Regions from separate parts of the Homo sapiens genome. Here region 1 is linked to region 2. A link means that fine-mapping ties the variant in region 2 to the expression of a gene that starts in the linked region. Tissue or cell type: tibial nerve. Region 2 holds a variant in brackets; the other region holds the start of a gene. All regions are shown on one strand. Distances are from middle to middle.

Region 1 (8,000 bases), 270 kb before region 2:
TGGCCTCAAGAAATCCTCCCACCTCAGTTTCCCAAAGTGCTGGATTATAGACATGAGTCATCATGCATGTCCAGCCTAAATTTAAATCAATTAAAAATAAATAAAACTGAGGCCGGGCTCGGTGGCTCACGCCTGTAATCCCAGCACTTGGGGAGGCCTGGGCAGGTGGGTCACCTGAGGTCGGGAATTCGAGACCAGACTGACCAACATGGTGAAACCCCATCTCTACTAAAAATACGAAAATTAGCCAGGCATGGTGGTGGACGCCTGTAATCCCAGCTACTCAGGAGGCTGAGGCAGGAGAATCACTTGAACCCAGGAGGTGGAGATTGCAGTGAGCCGAGATAGCGCCATTGTACTCCAGACTGGGTGACAGTGACTCCATCTAAAAAAAAACAAACAAACAAAAACTGAAAGTTCAATCCTGTAGTCATACAAGTCACATATAAAGTGCCTAGTGGGCACATGTTTAGCGGCTGCCATTATCAGACAGTGTAGATTGGACGGCACAGCACTGAGATACAGTCTTGTAGGGGAGACAGACACCAAGCAGAGAGCCATGCAAATATCTAATTACACACTGATATGGTTTGGCTGTGTCCCCACCCAAATCTCATCTTGAATTGTAGCTCCCATAATCCCTACATGTCATGGGAGGGACCTGGAGGGAGGTAATTGAATCATGGGGGTGGGTTTTTCCCATGCTGTTCTCATGATAGTGAATAAGTCTCACAAGATCTGATGGTTTAATAAAGGGCAGTTCCCCTGCACATGCACTCTTGCCTGCCACCATATAGCCACCATATAAGACGTGACTTTGCTCCTCTTTTGCCTTCTACCATGATTGTGAGGCCTACCCAGCCATGTGGAGCTTTGAGTCCATTAAATCTCTTTTTCTTTATAAATTACCCAGTCTTGGGTATTTCTTCATAGCAGTATGAAATTAATACACATACCATGACATTTGTCAGTGGGAAGCCATGGGCAGTGCACTGACCATTTCTCAGGTGAGGAATAGAGCCAGGGAAGCCACTGGTTTTCATTAGACAAAGTGAACTGGGCACTTGAGAGCCTGACATGGCTCCCTGGACCTCCTGGAGCCATTCTCTCCAAGGCTGGAGACCCAGTGAACTCTCCTGGGAGGTGAGGTTCCTCTGTGACAATGTCTGACCTGACAGCAAATGACACCAGTCTAACCATTGGTGGATAATATGGCCTGCAGAGCCAGATGGCCTGGATTGGATTTTGTCTTTGCCAACCGTCTAACCCCGGGGCAGTACTTAACCCCTCTTGGCCTCAGTGTCTCCATCTGTAAAACAGGGAGAATAACAGTCTCTGGCCTAAAGGGTAACTGGGAGGATTAAATGAATTAAAGAATTTAAAACACTTAGAATAGCTCCTGGCACACAGAAAGCACTATGTACTCAGCTATTATTGTTATTATTATCATCCATGGGTGTTTGAACTTTTTGGAGGGAAGGAATGCACCTGCCACTCAATGTCCTCCTTCATTTTCACTCTGTGCTCCCTGTGGTATCATCACCCAAAGTGAAACTGACCATCACAGTCAGGGTCCTCTGTAAAACAAGTGGGAAAGGGAATATAACCGTAACTGCAATGTTAATCAGCTCATATTAAGGATTTTCCACATGCCAGACCCTGCGTGAAGCACTTTATATGTTAGCACGTGTTAGACCTTCACAACAACCCCAATAGGCATGTGCGATGAAAAAGATCTCCATTTTGCAGACGTTGAGGACATGTGGCTCACGAAAGTGAACTTGCCCACGTTGACAAAAGGATCTCGGCGTCAGTTCCAAGAGCTGCCACCAGGTGACAGTGCCCATCCACTTTCCAATTGCGCAGTCTGGCGGGAACACACTTTGGGTCGTCCCGCAAACATTTAATGAGCGCCTACTGTGCCTGGAACTGTTCTGGGCTCTGAGGATCCATGCAAATAAACCAGGAGTGGGGCGAAAAACTGCCATTATGGTTCTTCCTTTCCATTTTCCCTTGAATATAATAAAAGGTATCCCAGAGATGCGTGCCCAAGGGGGATGTGGCCTAACCGGACCGGAACTGGGAGGCTGGCAGGGAGGGATGGGAGTATCTGGAAGGGCCACGGTCCCCAAAGATCAGGGGCTGCCACTATTCCCAGAAGGAGGTGTTCTGCATCTCCCCTTCCTGCAGCCCCCGGGAGAGGGGAGCAGGGGTCCGTCCTATCCCTTTTGGTCTTATGTGGCTGGGATGGTTGCGGCGACGGGGGTAGAGATTGGGGGGCGCACCGCGGAGGGAGAAAGGAAATCTCACCCTGAGAATCTGGAGTGCAGGGAAGGGATGCTGCTCAAAGGTCTGTTTCTGGCTTTGGCGGGGGGCCACCTGAGACTGCCAGGGTTTGATGGTCTGAAGGTCACCCAGGGAACCAGCCCCATATGGGGTGCCGGAGCGCAGCTCCCAGGCCTGGTCGAAGCAATGCGACCTCGGAGAGGCCTGAGGACTAGGACGGGGTGAGGGGGACTCAGAGACGGCTGCCCCGGACCCCTCCTTCAAGCAGGTCCCACGGCCGCCCAGCGGACACGCGTCCGGGCTGTGCCCTGACCGTCTGCGGAGCGCACGGCCAGTGGCCCGGGCCGCTGAGTGTGTGAGCCCTGAAGGGCAGTGGACATGTGCGTACGTGGGTGATGTGTGCGGTAGGGGTGGTGGCGATCCTGCGTAGGGACCCACGTGAGGGGTGCACCGACTGGACGTGTGTGTTTCGAGGGGCCAAGGAAGCGGGTGTTGGTCCCAGTGTGCGTAAACGGACAACGACATCTGGGAGTTGGGCAGTGAGGAGAGAGAAGAGTGTGTCCAGGAGGAACCTGCCTGGAGGAGGCCTAGCGGTGTGTGTGCGCCTAGGTGTATACCGGGGCGTTGGTGACTTCGAGAGGCACCGGGCGGGATCGATCCTCTCTGCGTCCTGGACCTGGTGCTGGTGTGTTTCGGGGAAGTTACTGCTTATGAACCCCCCTTGGAGCGTGGCCTGGGGGCAGGAAGGCTTCCGCGCTGGGACCCCTGGGTCGCGATACCTCCCTCGGTAAGTGTATTGGCTAGGGGAGTGTTCCCGCAAATGGATCTACCCTGGGGAGTTGCCCGGCTCGTCTGGACTGCTTACGGGCGCACTGACGTTGTGGGGGGAATGTCCCCGAATTGGGGGCACGAGGTCGGGGGAATCGTCTCTGAGATCCGGGCTAGAAGCTACGAGCTTGGGCTCCGGGGGTGCATGCAGACGGCGCCTAGCCCCGCGCGGAACCGCCGGCGGGACCGGGGGTGGGGCTCGGAGGCCCGGGGGCGGGGCCGGCCGGGGGCGGGGGCGGGGGCGGGGCCGCGGCCGCTGCAGCAGCGCGGGCCGGGCCAGGGGGCGCCTCGCGCGGCAGCGACTCTGGCAGGCGCTGCAGTGAAGCTGGACCCGCAGGCGGGCGTGCGTGGAGCGGGGGCCGCGGCCGCGCCGCAGAGATGTGACTCGGGCCGAAGGCCAGCTGGAGCGTCGGCGCTGCGGGGCCGCGGGGGTCGGTAAGTGCGAGCTGCGCCGATGCAGTGGAGGACGCTGTGGGGACCCCAGAAACTTTTCCCGCCGTGGATTTGGGAGAATTGGGGGGTCCGCTTCTTGTGTTTTTCTAAGCGCCCCCCCAACCCAAGCCAGGGAGTTTATTGCTGGGGGAGATGTGGAATCTGGGCGAGGGGAACCACGGTGCGACGAGAGCAGAGCCGTAGAGGGGTGGGCGGGGGAGGGGAGGATCTGGGGACCTTTACGGGGGGAGGGAGACTGTGCCCGGACCAGGTAGAGATCCAAGTCTCCCAGGAGGGTGTGGGGGCGACCACAGGTGAAGGGCAGCTGGGAGGGTAAAGGAGCCCAGCCGTGTCCTAGTGACTCGTCATGTGTGAGGAGCTGCGGGCTGGTCCTGGGGCCGCGTTGGGGGCTGACTGTGGACAGGGCAGACGCAGCCGGGGGCACAAGGGCTGGACTTTGGGGGTGAACAGCCGCACCTGTCGCGGGGGCTGGGGGTCAAGCCCGCAGCCGGCTTGAGTGCGCATTACTCAGCAAGGGGAGGGGGGGACACGGCGGTGGGAGATGGCAGAGCTGAGACCTGGGCTGGGGACGAATGACGGGGAGGGGTGGGGAGGAGGGGGCGGCTGCATACAATGGCGGGGGGGGCAGTGGCGTTTCCCTTCCAGACAGGGGGCACTTGGACCTCTGGAAGAGGCGGCTAGGCTGGAGATAAGGACTAGACCTGTTCTCGGTCCCCTCTCCTTGGGGGACACAGGCTTCCAGCCCCACAAGGACCCCACACATCCCGGGGTCCCTAGCGCTTAGGCCGAAAAGGGAGCGCGCGGGAGGAGCCCGCACCCGCCTTGGCCCCGGGCAGCCGGTTGAACAGCCTGGGAAGGGGCCAACGACCTTGCCCCAGAAATCTCCCCCGTGCAGCGGGTTCACTCCTCCGTCCTTGCTCTGTCACACCCAGGCCTAGCCAGTCCTCCCTTTCCGTCCCCCGTTCGCTAAGGGGGCGGCTCCTTGGAGCGCGGACAAAGGCCCCTGGAGTGTGGCGGGCAGCGGCGTCCCCGCCTGGGGCCCCAGCCCACGCGCCACATTGGCCGCCCAACTGCACCAGGCCGGGGGGCACCTGAACAGAGCCCAGAAAGCCCTGGGGGACCCCGCAAAGACAAGAGAAGTGGGGGAGGGATCTGGCACAAAAACCCCGGCACTTCAGCCAAGGAACCTTCTTAATTCAGAAGTTTCTTCGGTGGGGACTCGGGCTTGCGGAGGATCCAGGCTTTGAGTTAAACTGCATGCAAATGACATGTAAATAGAATGCAAATTGGCATCTGTCGTTTGGAAGCCCTCCCGGCCAGTTTGGTATCTAAGACTGTGGAGTGAACAGTTTGCTATCTGCTCCCTGCTCTAAGCCTGGAAAGGGGTCAGCTGAGTTGGGAAGGGAAGGAGATTCCAGGAGGAAGGAGCCGCCATTTGGGGGCACAGGCAGCAAGACAGGCAGTTTTGTTAGAAAGATAAACTCAGAATCTTTACTGGATTAATATGTTATTTCAAGAAACGTGCCAGGGACAGAACTGGGTGCCTTGTATAAAACGGACAAAACCCCTGCTCTCCCGGGGCTGGGGAAGTGAGTGGACAAACATTAAACAAACCCATAGCAAATGGCTATGAAATCCGATTGGGGTGAGGACGGCCAGGAAAATAAGATGGGGTGATGTAAAAGAAGGTGACAGGGGTGTATGTACCTGAGATGACTGTTCCGGGAGTGACATTTGAGTGGAGCCCAGCTAGAAGAGGGGCCCTCCGCTGGGAGGTCTTGGAGGAAGACTGAACCAGGAGGAAGGCACTGTGCCTGCAAAAGCTTGGAGGTGGGAATGAGCTTAGAGGAACTGAACAAAGGCCATTGTGGCTGGAGCTGTAGGCAGATTTGGGGGTGGGGATAGGGGAATGGTAGGGACCAGCCAGATCATGATCTTTTGGGTCATGGAAAGGAGTTTAGGGTTTATTCTGTTTGGACCAGTGAACCCTTGGAGGGTTTTGAGTGGGAGGCCATGGGATCTGATTTGTAGAAGCTCCCCTGACGTTGACAAGGAAATGGAAAATAGCCCCCCTTTCCATTCTGCCCATGGGGATAGAGAGACGCTGGGAGCCTCCAAGGGGCTCTGTCCAGCCTTGGGGGACCGCTTTGAGCCTAGCCAGCCACTGCAAGCCAACTGGAGGAGCAGCTCAGGTTTTAAAATCCACTCCCTGCTTTCATACAGTTTTTATCCACTCTAACGGAGCCCCCCGGAGCCCACGGCCCCGTAAGCACTTTCTCGCAGAGCTTCCTGGGGGTTCCGCTTAGTCACATTTTCTTCTCGGAATTACAGCCTGAGAGGAACCAACCACTGTGGATCGGGCAGCCAAGGATGCAATTTGCATTTCAATGATTGCTTTTATTTACAGGACTGGAGCTGCTTTGCATATTCATGGATCACAGAGCTTGTGTTCTTGCAACCCTGTTTACTAACCTATGAGGATTTTTTAATTTGAGAGCCCTCAAATGGGCCAGTGGTCTAGTCAGCATTGGGAAATGAAGATGATGAGATCCTGTAACTCGGAAAAGATATCAGAGGGTGAGAATTGGGGGTGTGGGAAAGAGCGGGTCTGAAGTCAGGAAACCTTGTAACAGTTTAATCCTGCAGAGCAGGAAATGGACCAGAGGCTCCAGCAGGAGTGAGTTGGGACAGACTATGATGCTGGGGTGCATGGGGATCTGGCTCTGCAGCCCCATCCTGAGCCTCTGCCACACGTGAGGGATTCAGAACAGGGATGCAGCAGAAACGCCTTGAGGTCAGGAGCTGGGAGAAATGGGGGCTAGTCCCAGGCCAGCCTGTAAATTCCAGTGAACCTCTGGCCAATTTTCCTGACGTCTCTGCCTTCATTTTCGCAACAGGAAAATGGGAATCATGATTGTCTTTCTTTTTTGAGACAGTTTAACTCTGTCGCCCAGGCTGGAGTGCAGTGGCGCAATCTCGGCTCACTGCTAACTCCGCCTCCCGGTTTCAAGAGATCCTCCTGCCTCAGCCTCCCAAGTATCTGGGATTACAGGTGTGCACCACCACGCCCGGCTTATTTTTGTATTTGTAATAGAGACAGGGTTTCACCATGTTGGCCAGGCTGGTTTCAAACTCCTGTCCTCAAGTGATCTGCCCACCCCAGCCTCCTAAAGTGCTGGGATTACAGGCATGAGCCACCGCGCCTGGCCATGATTGACTTTTTAACAAGCAATTCACTAAAAAGCTGTTGCTTCCTCTGTGTCGGGCACCAAACCTGACTTTTCTTTTCTTGTTGTATTTATTTATAATAGAGACAGTCTTGCTACGTTGCCCAGGCTGGTCTTGAACTCCCTTCCTCAAGCAATCTCCTGCCTCCCATAGTGCTGGGATTACAGGCATGAGCCATCACGCCTGGCCCAGACTATTTTTCACGTACTTCTCACACCAGCCTTGTAAGGCAGCGCTATCATTATCCCCATTTTACAGATGAAGAGACCGAGGTTCAGAGAGGTTAAGTAATGCCCAGTGTCATATAGCTCTGTCTGACTCCCCTCTTCTGGCCTGCCTCCCACTGAGGCCTTTCAGCCTGATGGGAGAGTGAACTGTGTACCCGTATTCATGTGGGTACTGGGCACTGAACTATTAAATATGCACAGGGCTCGGAAATCCACTCCCACCCCACCTGCTCATTTTGTCTTTCCCTTCTGTGTTCCAGTGCCTACCGCCATCTTTAGAGAAGGTAGGTTAAGATGCCACTGCCCTGCTAGACACTCGGAGGGGACATGGCTGGGGTCGAGGGGACATGGCTGGGGTCGAGGGGACACAGGGTGGAGCCGTGCTGGTAGCAGCTGGGGCAAGGCCAGTAAGAATGTTCTAGAATGGTTTTGTACATTTCATGTCTCCTTTCCCGTGAGTGAAAGGGAAGATGAGGATGCTGGTTCCCAAGAGAATGGCTGGTGTCTGCTCTCTGGGTGTCCTGGGTCTGACTCCGCAAGAGAGATGCCTGGTTTCAGGGCACCCCAAGGTCCTCTGGCCTAGGTTCTACCTCCACAGCGAGGCTCTCACTTACAGCACCTGCTGCAGGTTGCAGAAGAGTGTGGGAGTCCCCAGGGCCAACCACCCCAAGAGGGTCTCCCCTTCACACCACCTCAGGGACCTCTTTCGTTGATGTTTGATGGGGGAGGCTAGAAGCCAGCAGTGGACAAAAACCTAAACCAGTAATCTCATTACAACACATTCTTTTCTTATTTTATTTTATTTTATTTTATTTTATTTTATTTATAACAGAGACAGAGTCTTGCTATGTTGCCCAGGCTGGTCTTGAACTCCTGGCCTCAAGCAGTCTCCCACCTCAGCCTTCCAGAGTGCTGGGATTACAGGCATGAGCTTGGAAACCAGCGGTGGACAAATACCTAGGCGAGCCACCTCGTTAC
Region 2 (8,000 bases):
TGGCCTTGCAAAGTGCTGGGATTACAGATATGAGCACACCCAGCCACCAAACTGCTTTCTAGCTGTGTGGCCTCACTTAGGTACATGGCCTCTGGAGCTACCACATTCCCCTTCCACAGCTGTCAAAATGAGACTATCTCAGAAAAGCACTCAGCACAGAGCCAGCCACCATGGCAAGCCCTCTATAAAGGCTGGCTAGCACTAACATTGCTATAGCTGTTATGAAAGGGTCCCATTAACGTTAAAGGGCACAGTGGGCAGGGGCTGTCACCATACAGGAGGTGAGCGTCACACTGAAGCCACCTGGCAGTTACCTCGGGGGCATGGTAGGAGATGCACTGGAAGATCCAGTCCATGGCAGGCGGGTACAAGGGGAGGTAAGATGGGAGCTCCACTCCTTGGACCACCAGCTGGTTCTGGACCGTATCCCCATGAATCTACAGGAGGCCAAACAAACACTTAGAAAAGGAGGGGAAAAACCAAACAACAAACAAAACATACACAACTCACAGACTGTGCATACTTGTAAGCATGTGGACAGCCCTGAGAGAAATAGCCTGGTTTCTCGGTTGTTTTTTTTTTTTAAACCAAAAAAAAACACAGAAAGTTTCTCATGTCACCAAGCCGAGCTGTTTTGGGAATGAGCGCTGTGGAAAGCAGGAACCTGATAAAAATGGAGCCAGCAGATGCTCAGAAGCAAGGCTGATCGACTGGAGACGTTTCCTGTTAACACATGCATATTAACTTTCTCCGCTTATTCAGTACAATCAACACATTTTAATTGTCTACAACAGAAGCTAGTGTAATTTTCCAGGGCTTGCACATTTAAAGAGCTTTAAGGCATTCTCCACTTGGAAAACCAACTGGGTTTTGTGAATTTGCTATCATAGAACTGTTATATCGATGAGCTATTCTGATAGTGTTCTCTTACCTGTTTGAACGTAAGGAGGAAGTCAAAAAAGTTCTTATTTAGGGTTTCTTTGAGATGTGGGGCCACTTCCATTCCCACCTGCAGCCAGACAAATGGAAAAACTGGTTGCAAATAATGACTATAGTATGATTTTATTTTTGGAAATTAAAAAATATATATACCTATGTTTATAGACACAGAAAAAGTCCAGAAAATTATTATTATTATTATTATTATTATTATTTTGAGATGGAGTCTCGCTCTGTTGCCAGGCTGGAGTGCGGTGGGTGCGATTTCAGCTGACTGCAACCACCGACTCCCTGGTTCAAGGGATTCTCCTGCCTCAGCCTCCCGAGTAGCTGGAATTACAGGCATGTGTCACCAGGCCTGGCTGATTTTTGTATTTTTAGTAGAGACAGGGTTTCACCACATTGGCCAGGATGGTCTTGATCTTCTGACCTCATGATCTGCCCACCCTGGCCTCTCAAAGTGCTGGGATTACAGGTGTGAGCCACAGCGCCCGGCCTATTTTTTTTTTCCTTATCTGTTTTTTGTTTTGTTTTGAGACAGAGTCTCGCTCTGTTGCCCAGGGTGGAGTGCAGTGGCACGATCTTGGCTCACTGCAACCTCCACCTCTCAGGTTCAAGCAATTCTCCTGCCTCAGCCTCCCAAGTAGCAGGGATTACAGGCATGTGTCACGACACTTGGCTAATTTTTGTATTTTTAGTAGAGACGGGGTTTCACCATGTTGGCCGGGCTGGTCTCCAACTCCTGACCTCAGATGATCTGCCTGCCTCGGCCTACCAAAGTGCTGGGATTACAGGTGTGAGCCACCACGCCCAGCCTGATTTCTTTTTCAATAAACATGTATTGCTTTTATAAGAAAGACCACAGAAGCTATTTTTAATAAAAAAGGGCAACATTTGCAGAAATCATCTTTGCCCTTCCCCAAAGGTATTGAATGTATTTCTGAACAGACGACCAAGAGAACAAATCAATACAGAACTAAAAAGGAATGTACTCTCAAGATTGTGCATACAATAAAAAAATGATAAACACACATGGGGTTGTACTTATTAGACCAAGCACAAAGATTACGGTACGTGAGAAAGTCAGCTTGAATTCCAGATGTGGTGCTGCCCCCGTTACATGCTTAGTTAAAAGCTATACAAATTCATTCTTTGCAAGGCAGAGATAAGAGCAGACATAAATTTTAATACATTTTATGCAATTTTATATAACATGAGCATGAAGTGTAACAATGCTATAATCCACTGGGTCCTGACTTCATTGTTAAAAAACAGACTGTAACATTTCTAGCTGAAGAAATTTACTAATCATAGAGAAGGTGCCAGTACTGGGGTTAGATGGAAAAGTAGAGGGATGAGCTACGGAGGGGAGTTCATAGGTTTAAAACACAACATCACAGTGTTTCTTAAACTGAGCTCCTCAGAAATGCTTCGTTTCCAAATTGCTGCTTAACCGCAAAAACAACTTCGTAGGCTGGGCTGCAGTGGCTCACACCTGTAATCCCAGCACTTTGGGAGGCCCAGGTGGGCCAATCACTTGAGGTTAGGAGTTTGAGACCAGCCTGGTCAACATGGTGAAACTCTTTCTGTACTAAAAACACAAAAATTAGCCGGGTGTGGTGGCGCACGCCTGTAGACCCAGCTACCTGGGAGGTTGAGGTGGGAGGATCGCTTGAACCCGGGAGGTGGTGGTTGCAGTGAGCAAGATTGTGCCACTGCACTCCAGCCTGGGCAACAAAGTGAGACTGGTTCCCTATTTCTTCAAATGGGGAGAGATTTCTCCCATTCACCTTCCACTACCCAGAGGTCATGATGGGTAACACTAATAATGTTTTTCAGATGGCATTTGAGAACCACCAGGGTGTTAAATTCCAAGAGCAGCTCTGTGATTGCTGGGTACAGGAAGTGCTGTTTTCAAGGACAAGCACATAGATTAAATATATATATATATGCTAACAAGAAATATCAGATCCAGTTCTACAGTGTTCTGATTCTCCTTCCACTTAATCATATTGTAGAAAAGACAATAATTATCTGTTAGGTGACAGCAAAGGCTGGCCTGGTGGCTGAGCCATGGAGATGAGCTGAAGCGGCTGTGAGTTAGGAGTTAATCATAC[C/A]TTCCTTTAATAACAGCTTCAAGCTCCCCCCACGCTCTACCCACTCAGAGCTTTTGTTTTCTGTTTTTCTCTTCTCATCGGGCCAAATGAGCAGCTTGGATATCTGCTTGGGTCTAAAAGATTTCTACCCAGAGCAGCAAGGGTATTGCTCATGATTCCCATCTGCTGTTTCGGCCTGCCCAGCATTCATCCCCCCCATTGCTGGTATCGGCAAATTAGATTTGTCTCTGGGGAATCAAACCTTCCTCTTGGACCATGAGGTTTGTGGTGGAGCTAGATCCACCTCACCCTGAGCTCCATGCAAGGGCATGTGACCCAGTCAGTAAGTACCCAGACACCAACCCCAGACCCCAACCCATGGCCACGTGACTAGTCTAGGGGTGGACAAACAACCCGAGGTAATCCACCAAGAATCAGCCCTGAGGCTCTGGCTAGATCTACTGGCAAGAAGACACACTTTCCAATAAGGTTCCTAAGGTGGTAGGATGGAAGCCAGAGGCCGCTATGGGCCATCATATAAAAAAAGCAAGCCACAGAATGAAGCCAACTCAAAGAACAGCAGAGCTGAGTGATGTGGGGAGAGGCTGATTCTTGACAGCACCCTTTGAGGGCCTGCATCCAGCCATGCCTGCACTAACCCTGGCCTCTCCAGACACTGGCCAGTAAGTTCTTACTTTTGCTTAAAGTAGTATGAACTGGGTTTTGCCACTTGGAACTGAAAGAAATCTTACTAATACACAGGCTGTCTCTTTTTGTTTGTTTGTTTGAGGCAGTCTTGCTCTGTCACCCAGGCTGGAGTGCAGTGGCGCGATCTTGGCTCACTGCAACCTCTGCCTCCTGGGTTCAAGTGATTCTCGTGCCTCAGCCTTCCGAGTAGCTGGGACTACAGGCGTGTACCACCACGCCCGGCTAATTTTTTGTATTTTTTAGTAGAGACAGGTTTTTGCCATGTTGGCCAGGTTGGTCTTGAACTCCTGACCTCAAGTGATCTGCCCGCCTCGGCCTCCCAAAATGCTGGGATTACAGGCATGAGCCACCGCGCTTGGTCTCTCTTACTCTTTTAATGTTAAAGAGACTTTTAGAAACTACCCAACCAGCGGAATCAATGCATTGCCTGGACTGACAAAAATGATTTCAACAGACGCAGGGCACTCTACTACCAATCTTGTGGGGGGTCTGCTCTGTCCTCTGCATCTTCTCCTCATTGTCACTGTGTTTCAAGTTGCATCTGCCATTCAAAGGCACTTTATATGTAACAAACATGATCGTGTACCCTAACTCACATACCTGATCTCAAACATTAAAAGGGAACAGGCTTGCAAAAAATACATACTTCCCCACATTCTGATTTCTCTTTAATAACCAGAATTATTTGCAGAAGAGACAGCATGATTCTAAGTCTTTATCACCGGGTCTCCGATATCAGGCCTTATTCAAATGATGTCAAGGTGTGTTCAAAGCATTTGCTATGTTCTACAAGGTAAAAGGCAGCAGAGAAGAAATACATAAACAAGGCTGGGCACGGGGGCTCACACCTGTAATCCCAGCAATTTGTGAGGCCGGGGAAGGCAGATTACCTGAAGTGAGGAGTTCAAGACCAGCCTAGCCAACATGGTGACACCCTGTCACTACTAAAAATACAAAAAGTAGCTGGGCATGGTGGCAGGTGCCTGTAATCCCAGCTACTCCGGAGGCTGAGACATGAGAATCGCTTGAACCCAGGAGGCAGAGGTTGCAGTGAGCTGAGATTGCACCACTGCACTCCAGCCTGGGCAACAGAGTGAGACTCTGGTGCAAAAAAACAAAACAAAACAAAACAAAACAAAAAAAGGCCGGGTGCAGTGGCTCATGCCTGCAAACCCAGCACTTTGAGAGGCCGGGGCAGGCGGATCATGAGGTCAAGAGATTGAGACCATCATGGCCAACATGGTGAAACCCCGTCTCTACTAAAAATACGAAAATTAGCTGGGCGTGGTAGCGCACACCTGGAGTCCCAGCTACTCGGGAGGCTGCAGCAGAAGAATTGCTTGAACCCTGGAGGCAGAGGTTAGAGCGAGCTGAGATCACACCACTGCACTCCAGCCGGGCGACAGAGTGAGACTCCATCTCAAAAAAAAAAAAAGGAAAAAGAAATATGCAAACAATATCTTTGCATCTCTCCCAGAGGATGTGGCATTGTGTTCTGTGCACAGTAGGGCCTCAGCAAACACTGACTTGGGAGGAGTATTCAAGCTTTAATATATTCAAAAGTTGTCCTTGGAAACACACCTGATATCTCTGGATGGAAAATCCCCCCCAGGTTTCAAGCAGTGGGCGATGCATACACACTTTGGCCTCTGCTGCAAAGAGGGAAGAGGATGCCCTTAAACGAAAGGCTTTTTCTTTCATTCTCAGTATCAAGAAACAGACCTATAAAAAGTGCCCTTCCTAATGGATATCTGCTCCTCACTCTGAGGGCACTGACTTAGTTTTTCGTGAAACTTGAGAGACCACAGGGCTTCCGACATTTGCTGGCTGTCATGCAGAAGAGGCAAATCACAGGCTACATGTTCTCGCCTTCTGATTTAATAAGGTGCAAACTCATGGGGGAGGCTCTAACTGCAGCTTTGTCCTCAAGGAAGTCTGGGGCTTATCAGGTGCAATGATCCCTCTCTAAGGATGTGCAATACTGATGGGACGATAGGGAAGATTCTCGTTGCTAGGGGGAGTCCTGACAGAGGCAAAGCCCCTGTGTGAGCTGAAGAAAACTATGGAGAGACCATATACTGGCCGGGCGCAGTGGCTCACGCCTGTAATCCCAGCACTTTGGGAGGCCAACGTGGGCAGATCACTTGAGGTCAGGAGTTCGAGACCAGCCTGGCCAACATGGTGAAACCCCATCTCTACTAAATATACAAAACTTAGACGGGCATGGTGGCGGACACCTGTAATCTCAGCTACCCAGGAGGCTGAGACAGGAGAATCATTTGAACCCAGGCGGTGGAGGTTGAAATGAGCCGAGATGGCGCCACTGCACTCCAGCCTGGGCGACACAGTAAGACTCCATCTCCAAAAAAAAGAAAGACCATATAACCTCCATTGGTTACATTTTTTCCATACACAAAAAACTTAATAGCTTAGCTGAAGCCTCACGGTGCTTTAAAGCAGGGCATGGGCAAGTAATTTCTAATCAGTCCCTCTACCCCCTTTCACAGCAGCCACCTAAGCCAGGCCACACAGACCCTGAGGCCTGCCATCATGTGGGACACTGCTCCCCTGCCAAGCAGAAAACTAATAAAGCAATCAAAGTCAAGACAAAGGAAGAGCATGTTTGAAGTCAATGAAAAGCAACCTGTTAGCCCAAAGGCCCTGGGAACCTCCTTCCCAGCAAGAACTGAGAAACAATTACTTCTGAAAACCAGTTCATTTGTAAGAAGATGACCTTAAACGTCCCCTAATTAGAGCTACAGTAAGTTGGTCTACTTTAAAATTAATTTTTAAAAGAAACCCTACAGTTCTACTTTCTGTGGCAGAGCCATGATCTAAAATTAGCCACTAATAAAGTCCTTCTCTCAATGACTTGCGGGGTGGTGGGGAAGGAGGGCCCTGTGTGAACATTCAAGGAGACGGGTGGCAGCCGTGCCGTCAAGGGCAGTGACTCGCATGGCCTACCCGGCACAGGTAGGCACGGGCATACACCGACACTAGTGGGTCTCCGATCCCTCTGATCATGCATGTCAACCGGGGCAGGCACTCTGAAATTCCCCTGCAAGAGACAAAAACAGGCCAGCATTATATTCGACGTGAGAACTCGCTGTTCTTTAATTTTTTAAATAAAGATAAAGACTTCCTAAATTTCAGGGAGGGGGGGAAAAATCAAGTTTCAGTAACAAACCAAGGTCAAAGTTTCAGTTTTCTAAGGCAATGTAACAACAGTCTTTCTCTTCTGATACAATTCATTCATTGAATGATTTCTTTCATCGTTATCATTTGCTCAGTGGTGGAGGCTAACCACATTTTTTCCCCAGTCGAGGTCACATTTATTTTATTAATTTTAACAGTTTTTGTCTTCAATTATTTTCCATCGACTGGGCACCCCTTGATCTTCTCTCCACATGTATTTTCGTTTGCCACAGATTTACTGTCCCGTACCCTGTTCCTTCCGTGAATCTCAGGCTGGCATCTGACATCCTCCAACCACCAACAATGTGAATTACAATTTATTTCTCCTGCAACGTATGTCTTCCCTCTGCCTAAGGCATTATCCTCCTCCAACTGGTGAGGCAAAATAATGTTTCTTCAGCCCCCATGTTATTCCCCCAAACTATTCCAGGCAACCCTAGATCCAAATCCAACACACTTGAGATAAATTCTAAATCCAATCGGTAGAGCTATCTGTGGAGCACCATGAATCAGTCACTCCCGGGCTTCAAGGAATTTATTATCTAGCTATCTAACATGACTCAGCATTTCACCTGCTCTGCAGAAAGCAGATCTGGGTCCCCCACGTCCTGTAACTACTCTCAAAACATTGTGATAAATTGAGTGGCATGGACCTAAGCCACTAAGGGCAAAGGCTTCTGCTTCTGACGTCATTTTCATCATCATCATCATCAACAGCAGCCAACATGGAGGATGGGCCCACCGTGTGCCAGGGGTGACTCTCATTGTTGCATGTGTGACCCAAAGGACCCCCTCAGACCTCTTCTTAGGGTCATGTTCCCAGGAGAGGGAGCCAGAGGTTCTGAGGCTGTAAGTAACTTGTTCAAGACCATACAGCTAGTACCAGTACAGCCAAGATTCAAATCCAGTTGAGCTGATCTTCCATGACCTCCTTAACCAACTTCTCCAGGCTTGAGTTTTCCTCTCTCTAATATGGGGATTAGGATGGTGTCTCTACTTCATTCAGTTTTCATTTGGATTCAATGAGAAAAAGAACAGAAGGTGCTTAACACACATTAAGTA

Evidence for each region. PIP is the estimated chance that this variant, and not a neighbour inherited with it, causes the effect.
Region 1: GPRC5B starts here. The variant in region 2 is fine-mapped to the expression of GPRC5B in tibial nerve (GTEx, PIP above 0.99).

Annotation. Positions count from the first base shown.
Region 1 is chr16:19,880,276-19,888,275 of GRCh38, reverse strand. It overlaps GPRC5B (G protein-coupled receptor class C group 5 member B), which reads left to right and starts at 3,428. Exons shown (of 4, transcript NM_016235.3): 1 at 3,428-3,549. RefSeq lists a silencer at 2,875-3,169 and enhancers at 4,685-5,415, 5,416-6,145, 6,146-6,877, 6,878-7,607, 7,608-8,000.
Region 2 is chr16:19,609,123-19,617,122 of GRCh38, reverse strand. It overlaps VPS35L (VPS35 endosomal protein sorting factor like), which reads right to left. Exons shown (of 31, transcript NM_020314.7): 12 at 6,708-6,801; 13 at 932-1,009; 14 at 315-437. Among named protein-coding and RNA genes, the nearest start is that of VPS35L, 57 kb to the right of the region's middle. RefSeq lists an enhancer at 6,702-7,901. The variant C/A (reference allele first, on the strand shown) is at 3,057.